Linked DNA regions of Homo sapiens: all the other regions are linked to region 3. The links come from fine-mapping of genetic effects on gene expression. A gene starts in region 3. Each other region holds a variant in brackets. All regions are shown on one strand. Distances are between the middles of the regions.

Region 1 (10,749 bases), 64 kb before region 3:
ATGAAGGACCAAACTAAACAATTGTACTGTCTAAGCCTAGATTATGTAAAGCAATGATTTCTACCTATACCTTCTGATAAAGTAACATTTATGACTACCAAGTGTGTGGCCTTTTTCTATTTTGTTCACCATGTCCTTATTTCAGTGTTGAATGAATACTGAATCAATATTTCAGTATTGACTCTACCTTTCACAATTTATTAATTCTAATAATTCAAACTTTGACAGCATTTTCTATATGCTAGGTACTTTATAAAGAACTCACATATACATCAGTTAAACTGCAAAGATACCCTAGTTAGGTTCCATTAGCCCCCAGTTAGAGTTAAGGAAACTGGGGTTAAACAACTTATCTAAATTCTGCAACTAATAAGTGGTAAAGCCAGAATATGAACCCAGACAGCCTGGCTCTGAGTCCATGTTCTAAATCACAGTAATACATTTCTATTTATACCAGCTTGTATTCCTTTGGTGGAGTCAGACTTTGCACTTAAAACTTTTGAAAGCACTTTCATGTTCGTTATCTGAAACCGAAGTACTGTCACATCAGTTGTATGGATTTATCCCCATGTCTACACTGTGAAGTTGATAGCACAGAATCACTTCCTTGGAAAGCTGAGGAAACTCGAAACTCGGTAAATGACAGAATTAGAGGGTGAATGAAAGTCCAAACATTTTGTGGAAGTGCACGGCTGGAGGTGGAATCTGGGCTCCTTCATTCTCAGCTTCTGCTGTATTAGTAAACACTACTGTGAAGTATGAAGTCAACAAAACGAGGAAATGCAGGAGGCAGAATATCATGCTCTGCTTTTTTTTTTTTTTTTTTTTTTTTGTATTCTAACATTTTTTCATGTTAGAATGACCAAGCTTGGACTTCTACTGTAATCTCTATTCTGGCTGATGGGAGCAAAAAATATGTAAGACCTTGTGCTTTTTATTTATTACTTTCTTTTACTATATTTTTACTTTGGCATTTCTTTAAAACTATATAAAGACATTTATTGGCCTGGTGCAGTGGCTCACGCCTGTCATGCCAACACGTTGAGAGGCCGAGGTGGGAGGATCATTTGAGCCCAGGAGTTTAAGACCAGCTTGGGCAACAAAGTGAGAACCCATCTCTATTAAAAAAAAAAATCCAAAGTACCATTAGAAGTAAATATATATATATATGTGTGTGTGTCTTTACATAGTGTTTTTCATATATATATTTACATATTTATACCAGCTTGTATTCCTTTGGTGGAGTCAGATTTTGCACTTAAAACTTTGTATGTAAGTTATTTAAAAAGTACCTAGCATATAGTAAAATGCTGTCAAACTTAGAATTATAAGAATTATTATTTTACATGTATATGAAAAAAACTATGTAAACACACTTATCACCTTTAGAAACAAAAGTATAATAACATCAAAACATGTTTTCAATTATGTTTGTAAGACATTTAGCCAACACTGATGTTCCCATCCCAACACACTACTTTGTGGTGCTGACCAGTTGTAAAAACAAGAGCCACACACCGGAAAACTGCCCTGGGTGGCTGGATGTCCTACCCTTTATCATCCCTCACCGACCTACCAACGTGGAGAGCTGTCCTGTGAGTATGCTTTGGGAGGGTCCAGGACCCGAGAAAATGAGTCAGAGCTCATTTGGGTTCTCATAAAAGTGGCTCTGACTAAAACATTTTTTTTAGGTGTTTCATGGGAAAAGTTATAACACAAATGACTTCATTTTTAGGCTTTTCCTTAGGCTATTGATCTCTATGTAATTAATATCAATTTAAACATATATCTGCATAGTTGAACATATATATACCCCATGTATTTTATTTATATACGTTTTATTCACATTCACTAATAATGAAAGAGGTGAAATCTTGTTAATCTCTTTTTTCTTTTTTTATTTATAACATGACAATTGTATGTATTTATGAGGATAGTGAGATGTTTGAATGCGTGCATACTTTGTATAATGATCAAATCAGGATAATTAACATATCTACCACTTTAAACATTTATTTCTTTGTGGTAATAGCACTCAAAGTCCTCTCTTCTAGCTATCTTGAAATATACAATACATTGTTATTAACTGCAGCCACTCTACTGTGTAATAGAACCACCAGAACTTATTTTTATTCTGGCCACAAATCTTAAAGTTCTTCCCAATGTTAGCACTAAATTAATGTTTCTGAATGAGTATATACATGTAAAAATTCCATCAACTTGAACCATGAGGTGTGAAATTGATTATACACACACACACACAAACACACACACACAGTGCAAGTAACATTCTTTTTTTAAACATCATTATTAGGCTACCTCAAAATCCTTTTTGGATCAAGGCAGATTATATGTAAGTAGTTAATTCGACTTGCATATAAATTCCTTATAGAAAAAATATGTATCCTGGAACTTAGGTTTTACTGAAGTCATTCAACAAACATATTGAGTACCTATTAAGCACATAGTATCATGATAGAAACTCTTTAGAATGCACAAAGGAGGAACACATTGTCCCTGCTTTTAAAGAGTTCATATACAACTTCAGTTTATATATGAGATATAGGCACACAATTTAGTCAGTCAATAATACAAGAATTATTCTAAAAACTAAAAAGTAAAAGAGGTTGCAAAGTTGGGATCAATTGACAATTAATGTTAAAAGGATTTAATATTTGAAATTAAAATCACATTTGGCTGGAATGATCAATAAAGATTTCATAAAATAAGGTGTAAGTAGGGCTGTGCCCTGAAAGATGGATAGAATTTGAGTATATTGAGAAGACTACAAAGAGTCTTCCATGGAGGGTGGGTATGAAGAATGAAGAGGATTTAGTAACTGATTGGATACAAGAGCCCCCACCCCAAAAGGAAACTCAAAGATGAATCAGATTTGAATGTTAGTAATTAGGAAAAAGGCAGAAAGAGGAAGGTTGGGAATGAGAACTTTTTGGCAGGTAGATAGGATAAGCTAAGGATAGGCATTTTAAGTTTGTGGAAATGGGCATTGATGTGGAAAGTCCCATAGGCAATTAGAGCCTGAGAATTGAAGCTTGGGATCTAGGCCAGATTGGGATTCATCTATATTCTTTCAGGTGTTCAATGCATGAGTGCCTTCACCATGCTGTGCACTATAGGAGGTGCTCACAATTAGAAATCCAGTAAAATATTAGAAGAAAGAGATAAGTGATGTAAGAGAGGGACAGATAAACTGCTGTAGTAGTATTTCAAAGGAGAATTACTTCTTGACAGGGAGGGTGACATTTCAGTTGGGTCATGTAGATACGATTTTACTTGAGTGTTTAAATTGTCTAAAGAAGGTGGCCAAGTTTAGAGGCTGAATAGTGAGCCACTCACTATTCTTAAAATGAGGAAGAAGAGTTTCTGAACAGGAAACTATCAGGAGATGTTGTTGAATTGAATCCCTTCCTACTTTTTCTGTCAGCATTTTGTTTGGTTGAGACAAGGGTAAGCCATTATTCTTTACTTCCTTTTCCAATGACAGACATCAATGACTGATACGATGTGGTACTCTTTACCATGAAATCTGGATTAAACAGTTCGTTATTACAGAGGTTCTAGGTAGATATGATGGAGTGATTACAATGAGTACACAAAGAAAAAAATATTTGCTATCCCTGGTCTGGGCCCTTTTGACCTTCTATTAGGACTCTTGAAAATGAATCTTAAGTAGATTTGTGGTCTCCTCTCCTCTTCTCATTTGTCAGTGTGCACTACTACCAACTTACTCATCTTAAAATTTAGTTTATATTTTGTCATAGCCTCTCACCCCAAAACTTCTGATTATCCTGAACAACAACAACAACAACAACAAAAATACAAAGAAACAAACAAAAACAACTTCCAGCCTGTACTTAAGTCTCTTCACAATTTACCCTCAGTTGACCTTACAGGCTATAAGTTCCAGGTCAATTGGAGTCCTTGAAATTACTTGAACACATCTTGAGTTTGCTTACCTCATCACTGTTGCCTATGTTCTTCTCTCCTCTAGAATTTCATTCTTTTCCATCTGCTAAAAATTCCATCTGGGCGTCAAGGTAAAGTGCAAATAATATGAAGCTTTCCTTGATTATTCAAAGTAGAAGTGATCTCTCCAAAGTTAACAGAGCATCATCTCTATTGAATAGGACATCATCAGTAATAAATTGGACATATCCAAGATTTTGAGGAATTTGCAGTATAGTAATAAGAATGTGACATCTGTATAGATAATTATTAGACAAAATGCAATGAGTATAAAGAAAACTTAAGCCAAGCTATGATTATAAAAGAGATTGCAAAGTTAATAAGAGTAGCTGTCAATTAGATATGGGGAAGGGAAAGGCAAGATGAGAGAGAGGCAAAGATGACTAAAAATCCAGGGCATGACTGACCAGGAAATGTATACGATAGATTATCTTTTGTTTTGAGAAGGATGGATTTGCTCTTGGTGGTCTTCAGTTTGACAGACTAGTTGAATATTTAGGAGGATATATGAGAAATAGTATAAAACAGAACTTAAATGCATGGATTTTGGAGTTGGACCTCCTGGGTTCAGTGAATGACTTCGTTTCTTTGGGCAAATATGTTAGTTTCCTCATCTATTATATCTAATAAGTATAAAATATTCACCTCCTTTTATGAAGTTTGTAAAGATTAAACAAAATAATCTATATAAAACCCTAAGACTTCCCAATATAAAAAATGGTGGCTATTATAAAGGAATCATATCTTAGGATGAAGTTACATTCTAAAGTCGACAGAGGCCAGGCATAGTGGCTCACCTGTAATCACAGCACTTTGGGAGGCCGAGGCAGGCACATCACCTGAGGTCAGGAGGTCGAGACCAGCCTTTTACTAGAGACCCCATCTATACTAAAAATACAAAAATTAGCCAGGTGTGATGGTGCATGCCTGTCATCCCAGCTACTC[A/G]GGAGGCTGAGGCAGGAGAATTTCTTGAAACTGGGAAGTAGAAGTTGCAGTGAGTGGAGATCAGGCCACTGCACTCCAGCCTGGGCAACAGAACAAGACTCTGTCTCAAAATAAAATAAAATAAAATAAAATAAAATAAAGTCAATAGAGAGTGAAATTGAATCTCCTATATGCAAATCATCCAGAAAGTGTAGTACATTCACAAACTGTTTCTTAGTAAGTCTAAACCAGCCAATATTTCCAATAGCATTTGGATAGGTAATTGTGCTTTGATGCACCTGATAAAATAGATGGCTGGCTTTAAACATTGCATTGTATGGAAACTCTGTACTTTAAATATTTGAATTACACAATGTACAGAAGTACTCCTACTATTAAGAGGTTCCAGGGAACTGAGATCAAGCTATAGGAATGATAGATTCACAATTTTATCCCACACTTGGTGTAAGGAATTAGATCATATTTCCTTATTTATTTTGTCCTTTCCTTGTTCCTTTCATCTTTTCTTCCCTCCTTTTTCCTTTTCCCTCCTCCTGTCATCTTTGTACTGTAAAATTCTGTCAGATAAATGAGAATGTAGCCATTAGTCCAAGTGACTTTCATTGTAAGTTACTCAGCAGATATGGAAAATGTAGGTATGGAACTTGGAGGAGAAATCAGAACTGCAGATCTAGATTTGGGATTAAATCATTGGTGTGAAATACAATTGCCAAAGGGGAGAAAGTGGAAAGAAAAGATCCCAAATCAAATTGAGGAAAATATGCTTCCAGGAAGTATAGTCATCTGAGGAAACAGAAGGTATTATCAAACAAGTAAACAGTAGAGTTATGGATAACAAAGGAGGAACTTCAGAAGCCTGGGGTAGCTAACTAATTGAAAAGCCTGAGGACAACCCATTCAGTGAGGTCATCATTGACAAAGTAGTTGCATTAGCATGATAACAGCAATCACTGGACTGTAAGTGGCTAAGGAGAGAGAATAAGAACGTGGATAGGGCAGAAAAATGCTGAAATCAATATTGCCTCAAAAAATGAGTTGTATTTTGGGGATATACAATACTCTTAATTCTGTAACAGGTCATTTATACACACACACACACACACACACACACACACACATATAAATATCAAAGTATATTTAAATATAGCTCATAAAACTGTATAGCCTATTCTGTTGGCATGGACTAGTGCAGCGAGAGCAGTTGTCTACAGCTGGCTTCTGTTCAGATTAGTTGGTGCCAGCGACTTACTCAGGTTAAATAGCTGAAGTATCGTCTCTGCATAAGTATAGTTTTGTGTTATGCTTTGTGGTCATTTCCCTGCAAATTTAAAAAAGGGAAGACTGTCAGGTGCTGGGTAAACATTTAGTTGGATGGATGCCAAGTAAGTCAGGAGAGAGTAGAGTCGTATAAACCAAATGGGAGAAAATGTTATGGAAAAAAAAGTGATCAAAGATATTAGGTGCTGCTGAAATGTGCAATAGTAAAGGCAGAAGAGAAAAACTTCTAATTAGATTCCCATTGAAAGAAATAACTCTAACATGGCGCATTTTTTTTTTTTTAATATTAGCTCGCATTGTGAATCTGACACAAGTGCTTTAATGGTTAGGAACAAAAAGTATTTCCTCTTACTCTTCCTCTGGCTCAGATAGTGGCTATCTGTATTAAGCCTGCATACTTAAACAAGTAAACCACTGCATCGAAGTCAAATGAGAATCATGAAAACACAGTAATCTGATTAAATAAACTTTGAAACTTTCTTATTATGTGAAAAGTTAACTGAACTTTAGCAATATCATATGAATACCAGAAAATTATTCTTTATAATAAAGAATAAAGAATGTCATAGAAACCCATGTTTCTAAATTATTGAACTAACTTTCATATTGTAAAAAAAATCCAAAATAAAAAGGTCAAGAAATAACTGAAAAGATGCATAAATAAACAATAGTCAGCATAATAAAATATAAACAGACATAAAACACTATTTTACACCCACGGTTTGGCAAAGATGTGGGGAAATGGGAATTATCTTTCACTGCCTATAGAACTGTAAATTGGTACGAAGACTTTGAGGAGTGCTAGGTTTAATATCTGATAAAGTTAAAATTGAATGTACTCGGCCGGGTGCGGTGGCTCATGCCTATAATCCCAGCACTTTGGGAGGCCAAGGTGGGTGGATCACCCGAGATCAGGAGTTTAAGACCACCCTGGCCAACATGGTGAAACCCCATCTCTACTAAAAATATTAAAAAATTAGCTGGGTGTGGCGGCGGGTGCCTGTAATCCCAGCTACTTGGGAGGCTGAGGCTGGAGTGCAGTGAGCCAAGATCACACCATTGCACTCCAGCCTGGGTGACAGAGTGACAATGTCAAAAAAAAAAAAATTTGAATGTACTCTATGGCCCAACAATTTTATTAATATATCCTAGAAACTCATGCTCTTGAACACAGGAGGCATATACCAAGTTATTTATTATAGCATTATTTATAGTAACAAAAATTTTATCAATATGTAACGCAAAATTTAATTGTTTTGCATTTAAATGAGGAAATATCACAAACCACAGCTAAGAACAAGTCACTTAACAAGACCTAGATATATCACTATAGATTACAAACGTTAATACCGAATGAAAAAAATTGTAGAATACCACTTATAATATTAACATAAGTTTAAAAACTCATCAGTACTACATATTGTATAGTGATGTACAGTAAAAGTTTGAAAAAACAGACTGGATTCACCCTGATATAAAGATGTTTAGTTCTGAACAGAGGAGCCCTGGGGACTTAACTTCATCTGCAATATTTAATTTCATTAAAAAAATTACATCTGAAGTAAACATAAAAATAGATAAATTTTGACAACGGTGTTCTATGTTAGTTATAGTATACTTTGTACTTGTGTTTTCTTTTTATTTTTAAAAACTAAATTTAGCTGTATCAAATTAAGATTTAAGGAGGTAAAAATCATCGGCAAAAAGACAACTTCTAAGCAATAAAAATATTTCTGTTCATGAAAAATACTGCCTTGTGAAAAAAAAAGTGTTGTGCTTTTCTTTTTCAGGAAGGTAAACCAGAAGCTCTTTGGGTTGAAGAAAGATTTACAGCTCACATTGCCCGGGTCCGTGATGTAGAACTTCTCACTGGGCTTGACTTCTATCAGGATAAAGTGCAGCCTGTCTCTGAAATTTTGCAACTAAAGACATATTTACCAACATTTGAAACCACTATTTAACTTAATAATGTCTACTTAATATATAATTTACTGTATAAAGTAATTTTGGCAAAATATAAGTGATTTTTTTCTGGAGAATTGTAAAATAAAGTTTTCTATTTTTCCTTAAGTCCCCTAAAAGCCATAATTTTTATTATTCCTTTTTCTCTTTTTTCAATTCTATGAATATGTATTATTTTAAAGTTATATTTTTCACACAGAGATGATGCTATATTACACCTTCCCTTTTTTGTTGGTTTCTTAAACTCTAATCTCATGACAGATTATACCTTCCTTATTACTTGTTTTATCTTACTCAGAATCTTTGAATATATTTTTCTGCCCAGAATTATCTAAACAAAAGGGAGAACAAAAGAAGTATGTCTCACTTGGGAACTGAATCAACTCTAAATCAGTTTTGTCACAAAACTTTTTGTATTTGACTGGCAATGCTGATTAAAATTAAAAATGCACAGAACTTTTGCGCTGTTAATTTCACCTGTAAAAACTGTCCCAACAGATGTGCTTGGCACAAATGCATGAAAATGACATCTTTTATGATAGCAAAAACCAGAAAACAACCTAAAAGACTGGTTAAACAAATTATGGAATCTGTTTAAACAAATACTGTTCCATCACTATAAAGACAGAAGTAGATCTATATATATCTTGAATGTATCACTATTATTAAGTGAGAAAGCAAGTGGTAGAACAATGTGTGTAGTCTACTGTCATTTTTCAGGGGTCGGTAAACTTTTCCATAAGGGACTAGATGGTAAATTTTTTAGGCCATACAGTCTCTCTTAAAACTACTTACTCTGCTGTGGCATCAAGAAAGCAGCCATAGATAATACAAAAAAGGAGTAAGAGTGGTTGTTCTATTAGTCTGCTTTCACATGGCTATAAAGAAATACCTGAGACTGGGTAGTTTATAAAGAAAAGAGGTTTAATTGATTCACAGTTTCGCATGGCTGGGGAAGCCTCAGGAAACTTACAATCATGGCAGAAGGAGAAGGGGAAGCAAGCACTTTCTTCACAAGGCGACAGGACGGAGTGAGTCTAAGCAGAGACAGGACAGAGTGAGTGTGAGCAGATAAAATGCCAGACACTTATAAAACAATCAGATCTCATGAGAACTCACTCACTATTACGAGAACAGCATGGGAAAAACTGCCCGCATGATCCAAACACTTCCCTCCCTCGGCATGTGGGGATTACAATTCGAGATGAGATTCAGGTGGGGACACAGAGCCAAACCATATCACCTATGTTCCAATAAAACTTTATTTACAAAAACAAGTGGAGGGCTAGATTGGGTCCCTGGGCTGTAGTTTGTCAGCCCCTGTTTCATATAATAAAATCTGGGCTGGGGGAAGCAGAAATTAATAGTAAAAAAGATAACATTTTTATTTTTTGCTCTTTGTATTGCCTGAAGTTTTTTTTTTTAACTCCTATATGTATTTCTTTCATTTTCAAAATAGAGTTATGAACCAAAGAGATCCCAGCAATTATTTCAGGGTCAATGCTATTGGTCAGATTTTGGGGTTGCTAGACTGGCAATTTTCCAGATATTTCTCTGATATAAAGATCAGTTCATCCAGGGACACAGGCTTTGTAGCTAATGAAAAATCTTGTGACCTGAACTTCAAGGAAAACAAATTCAATTGCTTTCTATTTCTATTAGAATTTCAACTGAATTATGGTTATTAATTACAACCAATTAAGATGTTAGTTTATTCCCACTGGATTTTTTTTAACATAGTTTCTTCACATGTAGAATTTAGGTAAAAAATTTATGCAGTGCAAAATGTGCAATACAGAGAGGCTGCAAGTTAAGACACAAATAGGAAATTATTTCCGGATACATAGCAACAATGTTAATACTCTTCATATAGAGACAATTTTTCCAATCAGTGTTCTCCTGCCCCACCATGGCCTGGAAACTAAATAAGATCACCTGGAATTTAGAACTCACAATAGGAAGACAAATGGTGGGTGTTTACAACCCTGAAATGAGTTTAATAACCCTGGATTTCCTCATTACTTCTGAGTTGGTCTGAAAGTGGCTAAGTTGTTGACATAAAAATAAAAAGAGAAAAATTAAAACTATGTATTTTTTTTGAGATGGAGTTTCATTCTGTCACCAGGCTGGAGTGCAGTGGCGTGATCTCAGCTCACTGCAACCTCCACCTCCCGTATTCAAGCGATTCTCCTGACTCAGCCTCCCGAGTAGCTGGGATTACAGGTCCCCGCAACCACACCCGGCTAATAAAATTTCATTTTTTACACAGAGATTGTGCAATATTATACCTTCCTTTTGCGTATTCATTATTCCATTAAAAAAGAAATATGTATATGTAAAGCCAGTTTGAATGAATGAATACTAGTGATTTAATGGATCATGAAATTATAGAGGATTTGGTGTATCTACTTAATAACTTTCAGTATGTAGCCTATATTTACAATGAACTTGTTTTATTTTTAAAAATCTGAAAATGTAAACAATAAAGTTAGTTACACTTTAAAATATTATTTAGAAAGGATTTTATATGTACACAAAGTTTGCAAGAATAGTATAGGCCAGGCACTGTGGCTCACA
Region 2 (10,749 bases), 79 kb after region 3:
CAGCAACTTTTGGCAGTGTAGTTGACTATGGAAGATAGACTCAGATCTCTAAAAATCAACATTTTACTATATAAAAGCTTAAAATTGACCAGCGCGGTGGCTCACGCCTGTAATCCCAACACTTTGGGGGGCTGAGGAGGGCAGATCACGAGGTCAGGAGTTCGAGACCATCCTGGCTAACATGGTGAAACCCTGTCTCTACTAAAAATACAAAAAATTAGCCAGGCGTGGTGGGTCACACCTGTAATCCCAGCACTTTGAGGGGGCTGCAGCGGATGGATCACCTGAGGTCAGGAGCTCAAGACCAGCCTTGCCAACATGGTGAAACCCCATCTCTACCAAAAACACAAAAATTAGCCAGGCGTGGTGGCAGATGCCTGTAGTCCCAGCTACTCGGGAAGCTGAGGCAGGAGAATCGCTTGAACCTGGGGGGCAGAGTTGCGGTGAGCCGAGATTGCGCCGCTGCCCTCTAGTCTGGGTGACAGAGTGAGACTCCATCTTAAAAAAATAATAATAATAAATAAATAAATAAATAAATAAATATTTAAAATTGTGTAGATAAAATCATTCTAAACATTATTTCATATTAGCATAGCAGAATCTGAAAATATTTGCATAAATATGACAATTAATATCTTTAATATTGTAAAGCATTTTTACACTTTAGTTAGAAAAAAAGATGAATATACTAGTAGGAAAATAGGGAAGGACATGAGCTGACAGCTAGAGCTTCATAATTTTATGATGTAGTTCACCTTTAAATATTAATAAAGCAATTTTCTTCTCTGTGCCTGATATCTGAGAGTTCTTCTCATTTTCGTTCTTCAGGACAGTTTCTCTACGGAAGACTTCTCCAACTGTCTGTACCAGGACTTTAGAATTCCTCTTAGTCCTGTCCATAAATGTTCATTTTATAAAAATAACACCAAAGTGAGTTACGGGTTCCTCTCCCCACCACGTAAGTTTTTTCCTCTCCTGACCTTCCCTTTTCTCCTTTTTGTTTTCTTTCTTGTTTATAAATCCTACCATACATTATAGGGTAATATATATATTACCTATTATATATATATAAATATTACCTATTTTATATATATATTATATATATAATATATATAAAGTATATATATTACTATTTTATATATATATAGCTATATATATATAGCTTTGTTTATTTATTGGTGAAAAATTGTGGATTTGGTCTAGAACTACCAAGGGAAAAATTTTAATCATCTAAAACTTGAATTTTATAAAATTTTCTTTTTGTTGGGAGGGTAGTTGATGTAGTGCAGATATGGTAAGCAGAACACTTCATGGTTCCTTTCTGCATTTCTTTTAAACAATTTGAGAATATTGTGAAGGTGGAATATATATATCAAGTTGGAAGAATATATCAAGGTTCTTAGGAAGATAACTTTGTTAGGATAAATAACTTTGTTGTTTAAAAAGAAAATGCGTTTGTCAGAGAAGTAGGTAAAGGTAGAGGCTTACATATGCTTGCTTTTTCACTGATCCAGAATCTCTAGGGAATGGCTTTTTTGAAGCTAAGTATTCTATTTTTTGAAATGGCAAATTTGTATGTTGATGAGAAGCCATTTTGGGGCCAGCCTTAAAAGGCAAAAATCAGAAAGCTCCAGGTGCTCAACTACCGTCAGCATCCAGTTCAGTTCCCAGAGTATGTGTCTGAAGTCAGAACTTGGCTATTGCATTATAAAAATAGACCAGGTCCAAGCCTCAAATTCATACAGAGAAGCCTTGTATGGTGTTTCGAGACAGACATCCTGTGATGTTTTTTCTGGGTAGCAGGTGTTGTTCTGGAGCCAGATGTTCTCTTTTTTCTTTTCACTGTGAAAAAGTGTAAGGAAAGAAGATTGTCAACACAATTCCTTTTAGTTGAAATGAGGGCAATAACGTTTGAATATGTTTAATTTGGGGCTCTTGTTATTAAAGTTTATGTTTCGTTGACATGCTCATCTTGAAAAGACTTCTTAAATATTTTATTTTTGTAAAGGACTTGACCAAACACATTACATTTTCCCTTGACCCTGTACTTGGGAAAGTTTTACAGGTTTAAGATGGTACTCAGCTAATTTTTAAAAATGCTCCCCTAACCATGAGAAACTATAATTTCCTATGTTATTTGTGAAGAATGAAAAAGTTGTCCTCTTTTCTCTTTGTAGAACTAAATAAAAATTCAAGTGGAATATATTCTGAAGCTTTGCTTACTACAAATATAGTGCCAATGTACCAGAGTTTTCAAGGTAAATAATGTTAACTCTATATTTGATAATTTTAATGAATTTGTGCACATATAGGCATAATTCATATGTAATAGGACTTATGGTCTAAATTAAATGAATTAATACCAAATACATTCTTAAAGGTTTAACTTTGAGAATACTAGTACACAAAAATTCTACAAATTATTAGAATTATCATGTATTCTAATTGTATAATTGTTTGCAAACAGTTTTGGTGAGAAAGTATGTGATGCGCTTCCTAAAGTTATCCAGCTAATACAGTCTGCTAACACTTATATTAACTTTCATTCGGCTTCCTTATTTAACTTTTTGGAAGTTCTTGATAATTGTCTATGTTTTCAAATGAATAGATTTTACATCATCATTAACTATTGCAGCATTTGACTTTTACAGGAATAAAAATTTAGTTACTTAAATTGATGTATAGAATATCAAAATATAAGCATATAAGGAGTTTTTAGTCTAATTTATATCTAGAATACTTGTGAATATTTCAAAGTTAATATTCAGATATTAATAGGAAATCGGAATAATATGCCTTGTTTGTGTTTGCGATGTTGCTATGCTTAATGATGACATATGATCACAATTTCAACATGATGTACTTGTTCAGGGATGTCTCAAAGAGAGTTGGGTTCAACGTTTGTCTGTGAGTCCTTTCAAAGGCCAAAGCTGAACAATGAATTTTTGGCCTCACACTAAGATTAGAGCCAAGGCTGGGTGTGGTGGCTCATGCTTGCAGTCCCAGCCCTTTGGGGAGTCCAACTCAGAAGGACTGCTTGAGGCCAGGAGTTCAAGATCAGCCTGGGAAACAGTGAGATCTGGTGTCTAGTCTCTACAAAAAATTTTAATTAGCTGGGCATGGTGATGTGCACCTGTAGTCCTAGCTATTCTGGAGACTGAGGCAGGAGCATCTCTTGACCCCAGGAGTTTGAGGCTGCAGTGAGCTATGATTGTGCCACTGCACTCCAGCCTGGGTGATATAGCACGACTCTGTCTCTAAACAAAAAACAAAACAAAACGAAGACTGAAGCCAAACTTGACTTTATCTTTATTTACTATAAATGCTAATTTTGAATCATGGTGTTAATTTATTTCACACGTCAACATGGTCCCTTGTTCTTTTGAAACTACACTGGCTTCTATCTTGTTTCAGTTATATGGCGCTACTTTCATGACACCCTACTGCGAAAGTATGCTGAAGAAAGAAATGGTGTCAATGTCGTCAGTGGTCCTGTGTTTGACTTTGATTATGATGGACGTTGTGATTCCTTAGAGAATCTGAGGCAGTAAGAACATATTTCATTACTCTTAAAAATAGGAATTACCATCCAGTAGAAATGGGATTACCATCCAGTTGAGTCAACAGAACCTTTTTTATCCAGTGTCGTATGTTTATGTGTATGACACTTCTGACTACACAGGAAGCCTCTTGAAATATCTGATTAATTTTGATGTTTTGCTCAATGTTCAGTAAAATATTTTTAGGTAAAAAAGTAGTGTTTCTCACCCATTCAGTTCAGTTGAATAATTTTTGCACTCAGTTTAAATGCTGAACTCATTTAAGATCTCTGTGTGGCTGATTGTTAAGATATGATCTTAATATATTGTGAGTCAGAAGATGAAGAACTCTATGGTGTGGCTACAGATATCCTGAGTCTAGGAATGAATAGGGTTATAAAGCTGCAGTGCTTGGAGTCTGGTGGCCTTGGGTGAATGTTATGGCTTTTACCCAACTGTGGCTGGAGGGGCATGATAAAAAGCAACCGTCTGAAGGAAACCATCAGTGGTGCTTTTTTAAAAAAGAGAGGGAAAGAACATCTTGGAAACTGGTTGATCTTTATTGAAACAATAATTACAGCAGTTTGGGAAGCAATTTTGCTGTTAAGTCCGTAGGAAAAAGACTGAGATTCCACTGAGATTCAGCCCCTCTCAGAACTTTCCTACTCTCCCAGGCTGACTTAGATATATGTGACTTACAAAATACATCAGAAAGCACATCAATTTGCAAAGTTACAGTTTTTTACTTTCCCTTGAGGCATAAAGCTGCCTTAGAAGCTGTAGCACTGGAGAGGATACAGAAGAGAACTGCATATGCTTCCTACCCACGGCTTCACCCAGAGCCCTCTGTTTAAATCTGTTTTATAGATTATGTTTCTACATAAGGTCATATTTGAAAACAATGATTCCACTGCCTTAAATTTTGAAAGATGTTGAAAAAACAAACACAGCCTTAAAATAGGAGAATGACTATGAGGTAAAGATGTTTGGGACATCTTTGATAATATACTTCAGTTTAAAAAATTAAGTTATTAAGGAAGAAAATCCAGTTAGAACAAACAATTCATGACAACATGTCCTCTCTGAAGGGGCTGGAATAGAAAATTCCTAACCAGTTCTTTCTCTGCCCACTATTTGTCTATAATCGCCTAGAAGTTAAGACTATCAATAATGGTTTACACTCTTGGTCATAGGTGTTCAAAAATGACATTTTCTTTTCTTTAGTGTTTCAATTTCAATGTCTTTAGGTAGAACTAAAAGAATTCTAAAAGTCAATAAACTTCTACAGAAAATAAAAATTATTTGGAGTGTGTTTATCTGCCTGTCTTCTAATTATTGCTCTCAATCTGGCAGAGTATGTTGAGGTATTGTGATTACTAGCTTCTTATATTTAATTATTTGTTTGAATTTGATTTTTATATGTATTAAAAGCATGCTCTACTGAAATATTCATCAAAAGGAAGATAGTTATTTCTTTCTTAAAATGAATATTGGCATGTTTTACAGAAAAAGAAGAGTCATCCGTAACCAAGAAATTTTGATTCCAACTCACTTCTTTATTGTGCTAACAAGCTGTAAAGATACATCTCAGACGCCTTTGCACTGTGAAAACCTAGACACCTTAGCTTTCATTTTGCCTCACAGGACTGATAACAGCGAGAGCTGTGTGGTAAGTAGCTTTTGTATATTTACTTTGCATGTTGAAAATCTAGACATATGCATATTTGTTTATGTCACCCATCTGACATTACAGTGAGAGAAAGCACAA[C/CTCT]TGAGTACACATGGACTTCGAAATTATAGGATGCTTTTAAATTTGATCTTTTAAGATGACATATCTTTGGGGAAGACTACCCTTGTCTGCTTTTACTTTTTTCTTTTTTTTTTTTTTTTTTTTAGAGATAGGGTCTTTCTATGTTGCCCAGGCTGGTCTTGAACTCCTGGCCTCTTATGATCCTCCTGTCTTGGCCTCCCAAAGTGCTGAGATTGCAGGTGTGAGCCACCCTGCCTGGCCCCTTTGTCTGGTAAAGATACTAAAAATCAGATCAGAATCAAACTTTGTATGGCTTAACCACTAAAGTCTAGGTTTATCTGAGGTATGGATTTTCTCTTTTTTTAAAACTGGATGTATAATTTCAAAGTGTCAGCACTGTTATAAATTAAAGTTGTTAGACAACATTTCAAATTTTCTGTGTATCACTTAATTATAAAAAATCTTTTCCTTTCTTATCGTATTGTCATCCCAGTGTGTTTGGGAATAATTGTTTTATATTATCTTATTTGCTCAGAATTTTAAAAATCTACATTGTAGATTGGGACATCAAGACTGCATAACATTTTAGCAATTTTTTTTTTTTTTTTGAGACAGAGTCTCACTTTGGCTCCCAGGCTGGAGTGCAGTGGCATGATCTCGGCTCACCGCAAGCTCCGCCTTCTGGGTTCACACCATTCTCCTGCCTCAGCCTCCCGAGTAGCTGGGACTACAGGCGCCCGCCACCACACCCAGCTAATTTTTTTTTTTTTTTTTGAGACAGAGTCTCACTTTGGCTTCCAGGCTGGAGTGCAGTGGCATGATCTCGGCTCACTGCAAGCTCCGCCTTCTGGGCTCACGCCATTCTCCTGCCTCAGCCTCCCGAGTAGCTGGGACTACAGGCGCCCGCCACCACACCCGGCTAATTTTTTTTTTTTTTTTTTTTTAGTAGAGATGGGGTTTCACCGTGTTAGCCAGGATGGTCTCAATCTCCTGACCTTGTGATCCACCCGCCTTGTCCTTCCAAAATGCTGGGATTACAGGCGTGAGCCACCGTGCCTGGCCTTTTTTTTTTTTTTTTTTTGGAGTCTTGCTCTGTCACCCAGGCTGGAAGGCAGTGGCGTGATCTCGGCTCCCTGCAACCTCCGCTTCCCGGGCTCAAGCGATTCTCCTGCCTCAGCCTCCCGAATAGCTGGGATTACAGGCACCTGCCACCCATGCCCAGCTAATTTTTGTATTTTTAGTGGAGATGGGGTTTCGCCGTGTTGGCCAGGCTGTTCTCTACCTCCTGACCTCAGGTGATCTGCTGGCCTTAGCCTCCCAAAGTGCGGGGGTTACAGTCATGAGCCACTGTGCCCGGCCCATTTTAGCAATTTTTAAGTTTTCTCTTATGGTGAGCCAAAATATATTTCTTTCAGAGTACTTCCTACATTTCCTTTTTTTTTTTTTTTCATTGAAGTGACACCAAGTAAGTCTAAACCTGAATCTGCAAAAAGATGTAGCTTTCATACCAGTCCCAATGAATGGGTGGTAGGTACCTGGAGTTAGGATCTTGAGACCCAGTATGAGCTCAGCAGGAAAGAGTGCTGTATCCACTCATTCATTCACTACTACTTTGATTCACCATTCATTCCTTTGATATTTATAATCAGGTGCTCTAGGTACTGAGGACACAGCAGTGAACAAAATAGTGAGCTCTTCTCTGGGCCCAAGAGTAGAATACAATGATCCGTTTGCCATCCCTGATGGTAGTAGTCTTTCTATATATCGTTAAAATTCATGAAGATATGTCTCTCCTTAATTGTTTCTATGATAAACTTTCAGAATTACTTGTTCCTATAGAACACATTTCTCATTATTTTTCCCTTTATTCTTTAGAATTAAATACAGAATAGCAAGATTTTAGTTGGTTGCCTGATGATTATCTGACTCCACTGAAAGTTGTCAGTTTTGTGGGCATTGTTGGAAACATGCAGCTATTCCCTGCTTCATTATTTCGTTTGAGAGATTATATTGTCATTGAATGTATCAATTAGAGTAGGGTTCTGCAGCAAATAACAGAAACCCCTTTGCAGTGGCTTAAGCAAGTCAGGGATTCCTCATGGAACAGCAAGTCCAGCTGCACACAGTCCTGGGATGGCGCTTTGGGTCAACTGCACCATTAGGGACCCAGAACTTTTCCCTCTTTCTGCTCCACCATTCTTAGCATGTGGCTTTGGCCCACGTGGGCTTCTTCATGCATCTTTGTAGGTAACACATTCTCATAAAAACTAGTATTTGTGTAGTACATTTGCACACATCATTACGTTTGATCCTCAAAATAACCCGATGAGGAGGATACAGATAAAGGAATCAAGACTTATATGTTAAATAACTTTCCTTAGTTTACCTGATACGATTGTCACAGAACCAGCCTCTTTTAAAAAAATTTTCAACTTTTAAGTTCAGGGGTACATGTGCAGGATGTGCAGGTTTGTTGCATAGGTAAATGTGTGCCATGGTGGTTTGCTGCACAGATCATCCCGTCACCCAGGTATTAAGCCCAGCATCCATTAGCTATTCTTTCTGATGCTCTCCCTCCTCCCACCCCCTGCCCTCCAACAGGCCCCAGTGTATTTTCTTCCCCCACACGTGTTTATGTGTTCTCATCCTTCAGCTCCCTCTTATAATTGAGAACATGAGGTTTCGATTTTCTGTTTCTGCATTAGTTTGCTAAGGATAATGGCCTCCAGCTCCATCCATGTCCCTGCACAGGACATGATCTTTTATGGCTGCATAGTATTCCATGGTATACATGTACCACATTTTCTTAATTTAGTCTATCATTGACCATATACACCATAGTATTCCATGGTGTGTATGTACCACATTTTCTTGATCCAGTCTATCATTGTTGGGCACTTAAGTTGATTCCATGTCTCTCCTATTGTGAATAGTGCTGCACTGAACATATGCGTGCGTGTATCTGTATAATAGAATGATTTATATTCCTGTGGGTATGTACCCAGTAATGGGATTGCTGGGTCCAGTGGTATTTCTGCCTCTAGGTCTTTGAGGAATTGCCACACTGTCTTCCACAGTGGTTGCACTAATTTACACTCCCACCAACAGTGTAAAAGCATTCCTTTTTCTCCACAACCTTACTAGCTAGCGTCTGTTGTTTTTTGACTTTTTAATAATAGGCATTCTGAGTGATTCTTTACATTATTCAGATATTCTTTCCCATGCCATGTAATTTCTGTTTTCCCCCTTTTTTTAACCCCACGCCATTGAAGTTTCTTAAACCTATGTAATGCAGGACCATCTGTTCCAGGTATAGTTTCTTTTCCCCAAACTTGAAGCATCTAATTAAACAAACATGCATGGTATGTATTAGAAGGAAAGCTACTCAAGAGGAGAGATGATGCCTAACAAATCATGTGGCACGTTCCACTTCAGAGCTGAAATCTCGTAAATGATTAAACTGGGGAGATGGAGCACTTATAGAAGTGAACTGAGTGTTCTCTTGGTAACTTTTCTTTTATATTTCCTATTCTCCTAGCATGGGAAGCATGACTCCTCATGGGTTGAAGAATTGTTAATGTTACACAGAGCACGGATCACAGATGTTGAGCACATCACTGGACTCAGCTTCTATCAACAAAGAAAAGAGCCAGTTTCAGACATTTTAAAGTTGAAAACACATTTGCCAACCTTTAGCCAAGAAGACTGATATGTTTTTTATCCCCAAACACCATGAATCTTTTTGAGAGAACCTTATATTTTATATAGTCCTCTAGCTACACTATTGCATTGTTCAGAAACTGTCGACCAGAGTTAGAACGGAGCCCTCGGTGATGCGGACATCTCAGGGAAACTTGCGTACTCAGCACAGCAGTGGAGAGTGTTCCTGTTGAATCTTGCACATATTTGAATGTGTAAGCATTGTATACATTGATCAAGTTCGGGGGAATAAAGACAGACCACACCTAAAACTGCCTTTCTGCTTCTCTTAAAGGAGAAGTAGCTGTGAACATTGTCTGGATACCAGATATTTGAATCTTTCTTACTATTGGTAATAAACCTTGATGGCATTGGGCAAACAGTAGACTTATAGTAGGGTTGGGGTAGCCCATGTTATGTGACTATCTTTATGAGAATTTTAAAGTGGTTCTGGATATCTTTTAACTTGGAGTTTCATTTCTTTTCATTGTAATCAAAAAAAAAATTAACAGAAGCCAAAATACTTCTGAGACCTTGTTTCAATCTTTGCTGTATATCCCCTCAAAATCCAAGTTATTAATCTTATGTGTTTTCTTTTTAATTTTTTGATTGGATTTCTTTAGATTTAATGGTTCAAATGAGTTCAACTTTGAGGGACGATCTTTGAATATACTTACCTATTATAAAATCTTACTTTGTATTTGTATTTAAAAAAGAAAAATATTCCTATCCTGCTCACTGGTAATTAACATAGGTTTAAAATGGCTTCAAATGTGGCCCTATAGACGGTTAAAATTGTACCTTATCTTGGCAAAACTTCAGAGCACCAGTCAGTGCATGCAAGGTGCCATTTTTTATTGAGATGCTTAGAATGTTTCTTTCTGTGCACAAGACTTACCCTACCAGCAGCAGAGCCATTCTCTGTTGAGTGGTTCATTTTGAAGTTCCACAGATTGAAGAGAACATGCCACCAATCACCTCACATCTTCTTGGTGGACATGATAAATGACACAATGAACTTGATTTCTTTACTACCTTGACTGTAGCTTTTTATCCCTACCTGTGAACCTTCAAAGACTGCATTAACTTTTAGGCTACATAGGTCCAATTGAGGTATAATATCAGTACACCAAAGATTTTTATATGTCCTTCGTGTGACCATTCTTCAACGGCCTAAGGGCCAGCTGCAAAGACTTTTGGAAAATACAATTTACAACTCAAAATTATTTAATAATTTAGGAAGTTGCTTTTTTTTTTTTTTTTTTTCAGTCCTGCAGTTTCCTGAAGCTCTGTATATGATATTTTTTTCAGCCTGCTTCTCTCTGTTGTTCAGATTAGGTAATTTTATTCTTCTGTCTCGAAGCTCACTGATTCTTTATTCTGTCTAATCTGTTCTGCTGTTGAGCCCATTTATTCCTGATTTTTATATTTTAGTTATTGTATGTTTTATTTCTAAAATTTCCATTCAGTTTTTCTTTATATCTTCTATTTGCTGAGAATTTCTGTCTCTTTGCTGAGACTTTCTACGTTTTCATTTGTTTCAAGTGCATTTATACTTGCTTGTTGAAGAATTTTTATGATGGCTGCTGTAAAATCCTTATCAGATAATTCCAACATCTGTCACCTCATTGTTTGCATCTACTGATGGTCTTTTTTCCATTCGGAAACATTTTCCTGTTTCTTGGTGTGTGGAATGATTTTTTATTGAAACCTGGATATTTTTAGGTATTATGTTATGAGACTATGGGTCTTATTTAAACCTTC
Region 3 (10,749 bases):
GACTGGAATGGGAGTTTTTGATTATACATGTGCAGAAACAAACTTTTTGAAGTGATGAAATTGTTCCAAAACTGGATCATATTAATAGTTGCACAACTGTATAAATTATTAAAAATCACTGAACTGTATGCATATAATGGGTAGATATGATAATAGGTAAATTGTACTTTAATCAAACTTAAAATTCAGGTTACCTGGCAACCCTACATTTTGTTTGAAATAGAAGTGTAAGAGATAATGAAGGAGTGGCAGATACCGTGGTTAACAAAAAGTGAAGGACTAGAAACCAACTTCCTGTAGCAGGTAATCAGCGACAATCTGGGGCCAGTGGTGTGGGGGTAAAAAGAATTTATGAAGATACTTGTAGGTAAAGAAAGTCATATTTATTAGAGCACGTATGAAAATGTGTTGCAAGGGAACAATGGGCAGGCCAGCAAGAGAGGAGCTGACTGCAAGGAGACGAAGGCTTGCTGGGGATGTTCTAGAATGGTGCTTGTGCTGTGTGCTGAAGAGGGCTTTGTGCAGTACTGATAACACCGAGGTTGCAGTGAATTAGCTTGCATTTTTTTTTAATCACCCGAGGGTCTGATGATAGCTGAGTGCAGGAAGATTGTGAGTTATTTGTGCAAGAGGGCTACATGTTCTGGACCACAAAGCAAGGCAGACTTACAGCTTATCTGCTTTATATTTTTGCTTTCCCTCGGTCCCGCCATCCTGACTCCTTTTCCCTAATTAGAACCCCACACTCTCTTTGGATGGTACATGCGTTTTCCATTTTCCCAGGTTCTATTACTCTCCTTTGGATCTTACACTTCTGAATTCTCTCTATTCGTTTTGTTACCTAACTGATCCCTGTAGGCATCTCTCCTTCATCCCAGAGCAGCAAGAATCCTTTCCTTACCCTCTTTGTAGATGCAGGCCCAATAACAGGTCTCAAACCTTCCCAGAGATTATATATAAACCATGCATAATATAGGAGAAAATTAAATCTTTTTATTCTCTCCCTTAGGGGTAGTGAGTGGTTGATTTACAAATGCAAATGATAGATTTAAATGTTTGTGTAAAGTTGAAATGTCAAACATTTTGTTGGCATTTAGAGATATTATCTGAAAGAGCATTTTACAAATAAGGAAACTAAGGCTCAGAGGCTTCTGGTAATCTGTTCAAGGTCACATAGTTATCCAAGCTTCTTGCTCCAGGGGACATATTTTTGTGCTTTCAAAAAAAGAAAGAAAAATCAGGATGTCATACACATTCTTAAAAATAAATTAATGCCACAGAAAAATGTTTTCCCTAGGCCTCACAAAGATTAAAGAGGCTTGTGGGTTTTTTTTCTGTTTAGATTTGGCTAGATGTCTTTCTTGTTTTACTGGCGAATTAGAAGAAAGCTGGAAAAGCTCTGAAACAGCTGCTAAAATAATTACCCTACAGCATATTTCATTTTTTAATCACTAAGAAAAGTTGTTTCAAAGTAATATTTCAAAGTAATAATTAAACATTGATAAATTGTTTTTGTTTGGTGTTTTGGCCTTATCTACAACCAAAGCTTCAAGCACCAAGACAGAAATGTCTAAATATTTATGTTACAATAAAACTTAATAGAAAACTTACACAAAATCTTAAATTATCATCTTTACTGCTATTCCAGATTAGAGTATGCAATCACTAAAACAGAGTGATTTAGGATTAAGGATGAAACATTCATTGTTCACCTTTGCATTAACCCAAAAATTGTGTTGTGGTTTTATATCTCATGACCTTATTGTACTTTGGAATGTGATGGTGAAGCTGTCCCTCAGATCATTTAGAATAAAGAAGACTGAGGCAATATTTCACTATAGGCTTTGCAATGTCTATAGCTAAACCTGAAAATGGCATATCTGACTCATTTTTTTTTTTTTTTTTTTGAGACAGAGTCTTTCTCTGTTGCCCATGCTGGAGTGCAGTGGCATGATCTTGGCTCACTGCAACCTCCGCCTCCCAGGTTCAAGCAATTCTCCTGCCTCAGCCTCCAGAGTAGCTGGGACTACAGGCATGTGCCACCATGCCCTGCTAATTTTTGTATTTTTAGTGGAGACTGGTTTTCATCATGTTGGCCAGGTTGGTCTCAGACACCTGACCTCAAGTGAACCACCCGCGTCAGCCTCCCAAAATGCTGAGATTACAGGCGTGAGCCACCGTGCCCGGCCTTGGCTCATTTTTATTCTTCCGATTTTAGACTTCCAATTGGGTTTTTATAATTACCCATATTAAGTCCCACCTGGCACAGATGAGGCATGAGCATTAGGCAGAGGCCACATCCTGGTGACGTGTGTGCCAGGTCTGTCCTGCAGATGTGCTACATTTTGTTTGGCTTTTAAACGTGCTACATTTTGTTTGTTTGAAGAAACTGTTTCTCTGAATTTTGTAGACAACATTTTGCAACCGGAGAATTCACACAAACATTTAAATTTCCTGCTTCTCTTGAAAAATCTGACCATCTGCCCACACTGGGCACACAATCCTGTTGAATAGATGCTGCAACCTTTAACATGGCACATGGTTTGCCTTTTGCAGTGTGTATAGGGCTGCCTCAGTCAAATATGGTTCATGGCATATTGTGCTTTCAAAAAAAAGAAAGAAAAACCAGGATGTCATACAAAATCTTAAAAATAAATTAATGCCACAGAAAAATGCTTTCCCTAGGCCTTAAGATGTTTGTGACCCTGGAGACTGCACACTGTGTTTTCCAAATGTTAAGTCTTTAAAGTGGTTCGTTGCCTTGAGATGCAGACAATACACTTCTTCCATTTGTTTTGTCAGGTTTAAAGGCACTTTGGATAATGTCTCTGTTGAGTTGCTTTTAGAGGTTTTGACACTCATTTGACCAGTCTCAGTGGAGCAAATCTTTGTCCTTGAATCTGATTTTTGGAAAGAGTCAAAGGAAAATTTGGAGCCAAGTTTGGGGCAGAAAAATATGTGTGATTATGAAACAGTGAAAACCTGTTTCTCTTGGGTGGTTTGTGAGCTGACTCAAAGGTAACTTTTTAAAAAAGTTCAATAATGCTTTGAGGGAAGGCTTTTACTTCTTCCAGATGTCAACTGTCCTTTCTACTAAGCTCTCATAATATTGAAGTAGCTTTGTTGTCTATGGTGACATCCGAGGTTCTTGGTCTCACGGCCACAAAGATCAAATATGTGGACACACACAAAGGGTGAGGTTTGGAGCAGAATTTTTAATAGGCAAAAGGAGGAGAATAGCTCTGCTACAGAGAGGGGTCCCAAAAAATGGGTTGCAATACGTGGTGAAATGCAGGGGTTTTTATAGATGAGCTAGTGGGGAGGCGGTGTCTGATCTACATAAGGAGGGAAAACCCGGTTTCGTGCATATGGCATGAAAACCCGGTTAGGACCAGGTGTGTCATCTGCATAGGGCTTAAGTGTCTGGCAGCCCCGGCCCCAATCTTCTACTATATAGGCAGGTAGCTACTCCGTGTTGCTTATTTCCTTCTTACTGTGCATGTGGTAAAAAAGAGGGGAGGTGGAACCCCCATGGTGGACATGCCTGGCCCCAGTAGCCCCTTCTGTCTGTGCCGCTGCCGGCATCTCCCGTGCAAGCTTCCAGTTTCCTTACCTATGTTTGCAGCCCAATCTTCCAGGTTGCTCTTTGTTAGAAAGGAAGTGATTTCTTGGGCTGCTTTTTGTTAGAAGGTAAGTTCTGCCGAGGGCTCTTTTGCTCATACTATCTGCCTAAATAATTTCTATCTCCTGTATCAATATCCTATGTGTGACTCTATTCTGCATATATGACTTAGGTTTTAATTATTTTGTTTACGAGTTGGTCCTACCCCCCCACCCCCGCTTCCACCACACTTAAGGAAAGATACATTTTAATTCATTTTTTATATGGTATGCATAGTTGGAGGCCAAAAGATTGAGTTGAAGGATTCATTACTTGATGAATAAATGGATGGGTGGATGGATGAGTCAGTATAAATGAAGAGCATCCCAAGTTGACTATTTTAAAGGGATAACATGCATTTTATATTTGTTAAACATTCATTCTCATTTGTAAACACTTGTATATATTCATGTATTCAAAATGTATTGAAAATTAATTGTTTTCCTTGGTACCTGAAGTCAGTCCTGGGTATTGCAAAGTAGTTCGAAGTCACTGGTTTCCCTCTGTCTCACTTCACTACACACTGGTGATTTTGCTAAGTGATGAGCCAGAAAATGTACAAGTTCCAGAATCAAAGGTAAAACAAAACCCACCAAGAATCAGCTCACTGTTAGCGTCCTAGTTGAAAAATAAGGCTTATCAAAGTATTTCAGATTGCATTAACACTTTTGATATAGCTAGGTATCAGTGTCAACCTCAGGAGAGGGCAACGCCAACTCCTGAAACCTTCAATACAGAAAGTCTAGAAAAATAAGCAAATATACATACAAACAATAGCGAGAAGACTCCAGAAACCACATAAAACCGTGGGAATCGAAATATCCCTTACGTGTGTTCAGTACATGTGAACCCACGTATTTTAAGTGGACGATTTCTCTCTCAGAGTACCGTAGGTAGTGGGGGACGGGGCGCAGAGGGGGAGAAACAGAAAGTCGCCTTCCTCCATGGTTCATTTGCATTTCCATCCAGAAACTCACAGGTCGACCCCAAGACTCCACTCTCTCCCGCCTTTGAGAAGCCGGACCGGCATCGGCGGCTGCATCCTTCTCCTCCTCCCCGCTCTATTTTGGGGCCCCATGATCTCATGCCCTCTGCAGACCACACGCTGCAATTCCAGCCCAGCCCGCGCCGCGAGGCCACGCAGGGCGATTCCTGCAAGTGTCGGGAGGGTGGCCGGGGCGCGGGGAGGGGACGGCTTGGGGGGAAGTTTAAGACACGCCCACGTAAGGGACCCAAAATAACCGACACACAGAGTGCCCGAAATCAGACAGGAAGCCAAATAATCCGGGGCGTTGAGTCGCTTTGCCCTGACTGCGAGAGCCGGGTGTAGGGCGGGGAGCCAAGGATCTGACCGCGAGGGGCGGGCGCGGCGGGGAGGGGCGGGGCGGGGCGGGCGGCGCGGGGCCTATTAAAGGCGCGGCCGGGCAGCGGGGCCGGAGCGGCCGGGGCCACGATGGAGCGCGACGGCTGCGCGGGGGGCGGGAGCCGCGGCGGCGAGGGCGGGCGCGCTCCCCGGGAGGGCCCGGCGGGGAACGGCCGCGATCGGGGCCGCAGCCACGCTGCCGAGGCGCCCGGGGACCCGCAGGCGGCCGCGTCCTTGCTGGCCCCTATGGACGTGGGGGAGGAGCCGCTGGAGAAGGCGGCGCGCGCCCGCACTGCCAAGGACCCCAACACCTATAAAGTACTCTCGCTGGTAGGTCCGCGGCCAGGCCCCGGCGCCCGGGAGGGCTGGGAGTACGGGGAGGGCGGCGCCGAGCTCCTGCGCTCTCAGCGCAGTCAGCACCGGGCACCGGAGAGAGGCATGGTCCGGGAGTGCTTCTTCGCCCGCGCGCTCTCCTCCGCAGCCTTTGCAAGTGCCCTACACAGCCGCCCCTGCCAGGTACCTTGCCAGGGCAGGATGGTTCACTCTCACTTGAATTATGGATGCCTGTGAAAGCAGGCTGTTCAAAACGGTCATCCTTAGAAATACTCGACCCCCTGCCCCAGGAGAGTACGGGTTTTTAGAGGAGAAAAATGTCAAACGCGAAAGTTGTTGGTCTTAAGAAGGTGCATCAATGTGTTGCTTCTTTTAGGGGGCTCTGGGCGCAGTATACATGACTTCACTTGGGTTAACTGATTGCAGTTGAAGAGTTAGCGGAGCTCTTTAAGTTTTATTAGGAACTCTACGGAACACTTTTTCCCTTTCGCTCCGTTTTGGAATTTCCTTGCAGGTGCTCAGAAATTCCATGGATGTTCACATTATGTGACTGAAGAAACCTTTATGATTCTTTGCCCACTCTTCTAACCAGAGGCTACACGGTTTGTGTTGCTAACAAAAGCTACCTATTACTCCTCTGCTATTTTGCTATGACATTTGCAGGACCCACAGTCAACTTCATGAAATGTGGGGGTTGGTTTTTATTCTGAATTCATGGTGGGAAGTGCTGATTGAGAGAAGGCCTGGATTCCTGGCTGTTATTATTTGCTGAGGCCTTGCGTAACTGTCCCTAAACCTCAATTTCTAATGTGTGAAAATGGGACAACATCAACTCCCTTGTGCATTGCATGGGATTATTGTGAAAATCAAGCTGAAGAATGTAGGTAGGGAAGTAAATTGAAAACAGCAAGGAAATAGAATCATTTTTATTGTATTATATGGAAATCACAGATTTCTATGTATAGTGTACCCTAAAATATATCCCCTTACATATGATTGAATAATGCTTTGTAGAAAAATTTCTAATTTTTCAAGTCTCCTTTCATTTTGTATGCATTTCCATTTTCACTATATTTGGGACATCATGGAGATGCTATAATACTTTGAGGAATCAATCTTCCTAGACTTAAGAGATGGTGCCGTATGCTTAGTACTTAAAAAGAAGCCTTAGTTTCACAGAATAAGTACCCCAAGCCACATGATGTTTGCATCTCAAGATAAAATTTTGCATCTTGTAACACTGTTTTGAGTCTATAATAACACAATATTGATGAGAACTTAGTCTCTTGAGTCACCTTTTAAAAATTTTGTTAATGGAAGACCTTAGCTTTTACAACCTGATCACTTAAATTGTTTAGTATTAATACCTTGAGGTGTTTCACACACGATGAGGTAGTCGATAATTGTATATGGAATCAGTGTGTAACTCTTGTGTAAAACCATTTCTACATGCCTATAAACCTTTACAGGTTTTCCAATTGCAAAATTCAGGTTTTAAATTTTTCTTGCTCATTTACTTATACATCCACAACAGATATCAGCAAAGGTCTAGTTTTGGAATAAGCTGTCCAGTCTTTGAGACCTGCAGTCAACTGGTCAAACAGCATTCTGTGTGATGATGCTACTCTGGGCATTTGACATGGAAGTGTCCTAGGACTTACTTCCACAAGTAGGACTATTATGGACCTTTTTTATCCATTAATTGGGGTCTTTTGCATCTATTGAATTGGAAAGAATTCTTACTTCATATCTTTTGATGGAACACTGTGAGACATTAACATACAAATGTTACCAAATAGACCTGGTGCGGTGACTCATACCTATTATCTCAGCACTTTGGGAAGTTGAGGCGGTTCCATTGCTTGAGCCCAGGAGTTTGAGACCAGCCTGGGCAACATGATGAAACCCATCTCTACAAAAGATACAAAAATTAGCTGGGTATGGTAGCATGCGTCTATGTCCCAGCTACTTGGGAGGCTGACATGGGAGGTTCAGCTGAGCCAGGGAAAGTTAAGGCTGCAGTGAACTGTGATTGTGCCACTGCACTTCAGCTTGGGTGACACGGTGAGACCCTTTATTGTTGAAATTGCTATTTAGCTACTGAACTGAAAGTGCAAACTCGTATTCTTCTTTCCCTTCCCTACTTCAATACCTTTTTCCCCCAACCCCGCCCCCCCCCCAAAAACTTCCCCAAATAATGGGCTTCCAAATGGAAAAGGCCCCAAAAGCATCCTGACAATTGTCGTCAAAGAGCTCTGGGATATGTCTTCTAGAAAGGAGCTGCAATTATAGAATTCCTTTTGTTTTCAGATTAAACCTCAGCACACTTTTCATAAAGCTGCAGAAACAGATTGAACTAATTGCAACCTGGGGTTGGGATTAGGAGAGGCCCAGCACTATGATCCTCAGCTACACTGTTTTAATTTAGCAGGATAAATAGAAGAGTTGCGTTGCCTTGCCTTTCAGAGGCAATCATGTTGCAGTGGCAATGTAATTTTTACATTACTCTGCAGTTTTCTCAGATAAACTAAAATGATGTAGATGTGTGAGAGTGGATGAAGGAGTGAGGATTCTGTCCTACCCTGGCTTCTCCCCATTGTGGTGGTTGATCTTAGGAGAGGGCCACCAAGCTGTGCTTTAGAGGCTTTTGGCCCTGGGCCCTGGAATGCTTGTGCCTAGGTACTGAGCCAAACTGAGGAAAACAGCAAGAGGGAAAAACAAGTATTATTCTCTACATGTGTCAGTAGGTATGTTAAATATTAGATGCCTTTCCTTGGTTGTAAATGAAGTTTTGAACTGAAGTGTAGACTTCCACCGAGATGTGTTGACTTGGAGATGTATTTAAATATCCTTCTTGTTTCTTGGTGTGATTTTACAGTCATGTAATTCTCAACTACATTGCAATACATTTCTCCAGTTAGCTCCTCAAAAGCATTTTTTTTGTGTTGTTTGTGACCTTCTGCTATACTTATGAATACATATATCTGTGTATCTGTGTATGTGTAAAGGGCTTGCGTATGGGTGGTGGTCACTGAAGACTACTTTCATGTTTCAGTGAAAGAGTTCTTTAAAAAAACATATATCTATATCTATATCTATATATCTATATCTATATCTATATCTATATCTATATCTATATCTATATCTATATCTATATATATGTAGAGAGTCCGTTTGGCTCAAGTTTGAGGACTGCAACCCAGGAGCATAGATTCAAGTTGCCCTGAGTAGATGCTCCTATTAGCAGCAGTTACAAATGGGTTTTTAAAGGAAAAAGGAAGAGGCAGTTCCTAAGTTGTTTATCAAGCATTCATGTTACAATAACGAGCTATTGGTTGGCTATACATTGTTCTTTGTATCACACATTCCAGGAACATGAAGATAGTGGGTGAGGCAGCTGTCAGGAACAAAATGCTTTTAAAGAATTGCCCCTGGGAATGGGTGCAGTGATGTGACTGAAGTCCCATGCTCATGTCCCTCTGGGCCTGATAAATTTTGCATAGTTCGCATATCTCAGACTGCTCTGAGCAATTTTTCTTTCTCATTTCCTCCTTTTAATAAAAATCTTTCTCTTCTTAAAATACTGATGATCAACGTTTTGGATGTAAGTTTGTCCCACATTGCTGGGAAGGCTCATTTCCGGATAGTCTTGTCCCATGTCAGAGGGAATGAGATGGGCAGAAGTACTATCACTTAAAAACTTAGTGAGGTTCCAAGGCTGAATTGGTAGGCAACAATTCAGGGATTGGATTGAAAAATAAGGGGACAGAGCAGCGGGATTTCAGGTCATTCACTTACACTGGAGTTGAGGTATGTTGGGTCATTTCTAAGCATCTAGCTATTATGATGAGTTTTTTGTTATAGAATTTTGTGGTAGACTTTAGACATCTAGAAATACAAAGCATAATCAATTTAAGAATCAAAAGGATGACACAAATAAGGACAATTATCAACAAAACAACTTGAAATACAAATATGAAAAGTGTTCCTATTCCTGAAGGTAACCAAATGAATATTTTAATCCACTTCTTGTCCTGGTCTAAAGAACAAAGTGTTGAAGATCTCCACTGAGGAAGATGTCCACTTAGGCAGGGTAGCCTGATATTGGCCCTTCTAACGTGGCTAGGAGTCCTTTATTTGATGGTATTTTCTATTAAACAAAATCTTCCAGGTTGGAGACCATGATCTTTGATGTTTTTGTCTCCTAAGAGCTTGCTGTTAAAAGAATCCTTAATTAATTTAGAATTTTCAGTGAGAAACTTATAAGGCCTTGACAATAGTGAAGAGTATCACCTTGTTAATGGAAAAACCAAACTCTGTAAAATATTTTAAAGAGCTTTATCCTGAGCCAAGATGAGTGACTGTGGCTCGGGGAAACACTTTCTCAAGGAGTCCTGAGAATGTGCACCTGAGGCAGTTGGATTACTGTGTGTTTTTATATATTTCAGGGAGGCAGGAGTTACTGGCAAAGACATAAATCAGTACATGAAAGGTATACATTGATTCCATATGAAAAGGTGGGATATCTTAAAGCAAGGGCTTACAGGTTATTTATTCAGCATATTCAGAGATTTTTTTTTTGAGACAGTCTTGCTCTGTTGCCCAGGCTAGAGTGCAATAGCACAATCTCGGCCCACTGCAACCTCCCGCTCCTGGGTTCAAGCGATTCTTCTGTCTCAGCCTCCCAAGTAGCTGGGATTACAGGCACACACCACCACTCCTGGCTAATTTTTTTGTATTTTAGTAGAGACAGGGTTTCACTTTGTTGCCCAGGCTGGTCTTGAACTCCTGAGCTCAGGAATTTCACCCACCTCAGCCTCCCAAAGTGCTATGATTATAGGCGTGAGCCACTTTGCCCGGTGATTCGGAGATTCTTTAATTTGCAATTGATTAAAGGAGTAAGGCTCTGTCTAAAACTTGGAATCAACAGAAAGGGCTGTTGTGGCTGTGTGTGATGGCTCATGCCTGTAATCCCAGCACTTTGGGAGGCTGAGGCAGGTGGGATCATTTGAGGTCAGGAGTTCAAGACCAGAATGACCAACATGGTGAAACCCCTTCAAAAAAAGGGTGAAACCTCTTTTTTTGTAAAAATACAAAAAAAATTAGCAGGGCATGGTAGTACATGCCTGTAGTGCCAACCACTTGGGAGGCTGAGGCAGGAGAATCGCTTGAACCTGGGAGGCGGAGGTTGCAGTGAGCCGAGATTGCACCATTACACTCCAGCCTAGGTGACAGAGCAAGACTCTGTCTCAAAAAAAAAAAAGGGATGTTGTAAGTTAAGCATGATGCTATGTAGCAAAATTGATGGGTGTGCAGACATGACTTAACCCTCCCCTTGCATACCCTTAAGGTCTTGTTTATAACTTGGTGTCTTATTGCCACAGAGACGTTT

What was found. PIP is the estimated chance that this variant, and not a neighbour inherited with it, causes the effect. A credible set is the group of variants that fine-mapping cannot tell apart.
Region 1: its variant is the best candidate, but not a certain one, in a credible set for the expression of ENPP1 in fibroblasts (GTEx, PIP 0.68).
Region 2: its variant is the best candidate, but not a certain one, in a credible set for the expression of ENPP1 in pancreas (GTEx, PIP 0.83).

Annotation. Positions count from the first base shown.
Region 1 is chr6:131,738,786-131,749,534 of GRCh38, forward strand. It overlaps ENPP3 (ectonucleotide pyrophosphatase/phosphodiesterase 3), which reads left to right. Exons shown (of 25, transcript NM_005021.5): 24 at 1,439-1,595; 25 at 8,001-8,625. The coding sequence ends at 8,171. Among named protein-coding and RNA genes, the nearest start is that of CTAGE9, 33 kb to the left of the region's middle. The variant A/G (reference allele first, on the strand shown) is at 4,933.
Region 2 is chr6:131,881,517-131,892,265 of GRCh38, forward strand. ENPP1 (ectonucleotide pyrophosphatase/phosphodiesterase 1) reads left to right here. Exons shown (of 25, transcript NM_006208.3): 21 at 829-958; 22 at 2,178-2,258; 23 at 3,415-3,547; 24 at 5,046-5,208; 25 at 8,825-10,749. The coding sequence ends at 8,995. Among named protein-coding and RNA genes, the nearest start is that of CCN2-AS1, 15 kb to the right of the region's middle. The variant C/CTCT (reference allele first, on the strand shown) is at 5,308.
Region 3 is chr6:131,802,922-131,813,670 of GRCh38, forward strand. ENPP1 (ectonucleotide pyrophosphatase/phosphodiesterase 1) reads left to right here and starts at 5,099. Exons shown (of 25, transcript NM_006208.3): 1 at 5,099-5,354. The coding sequence starts at 5,115.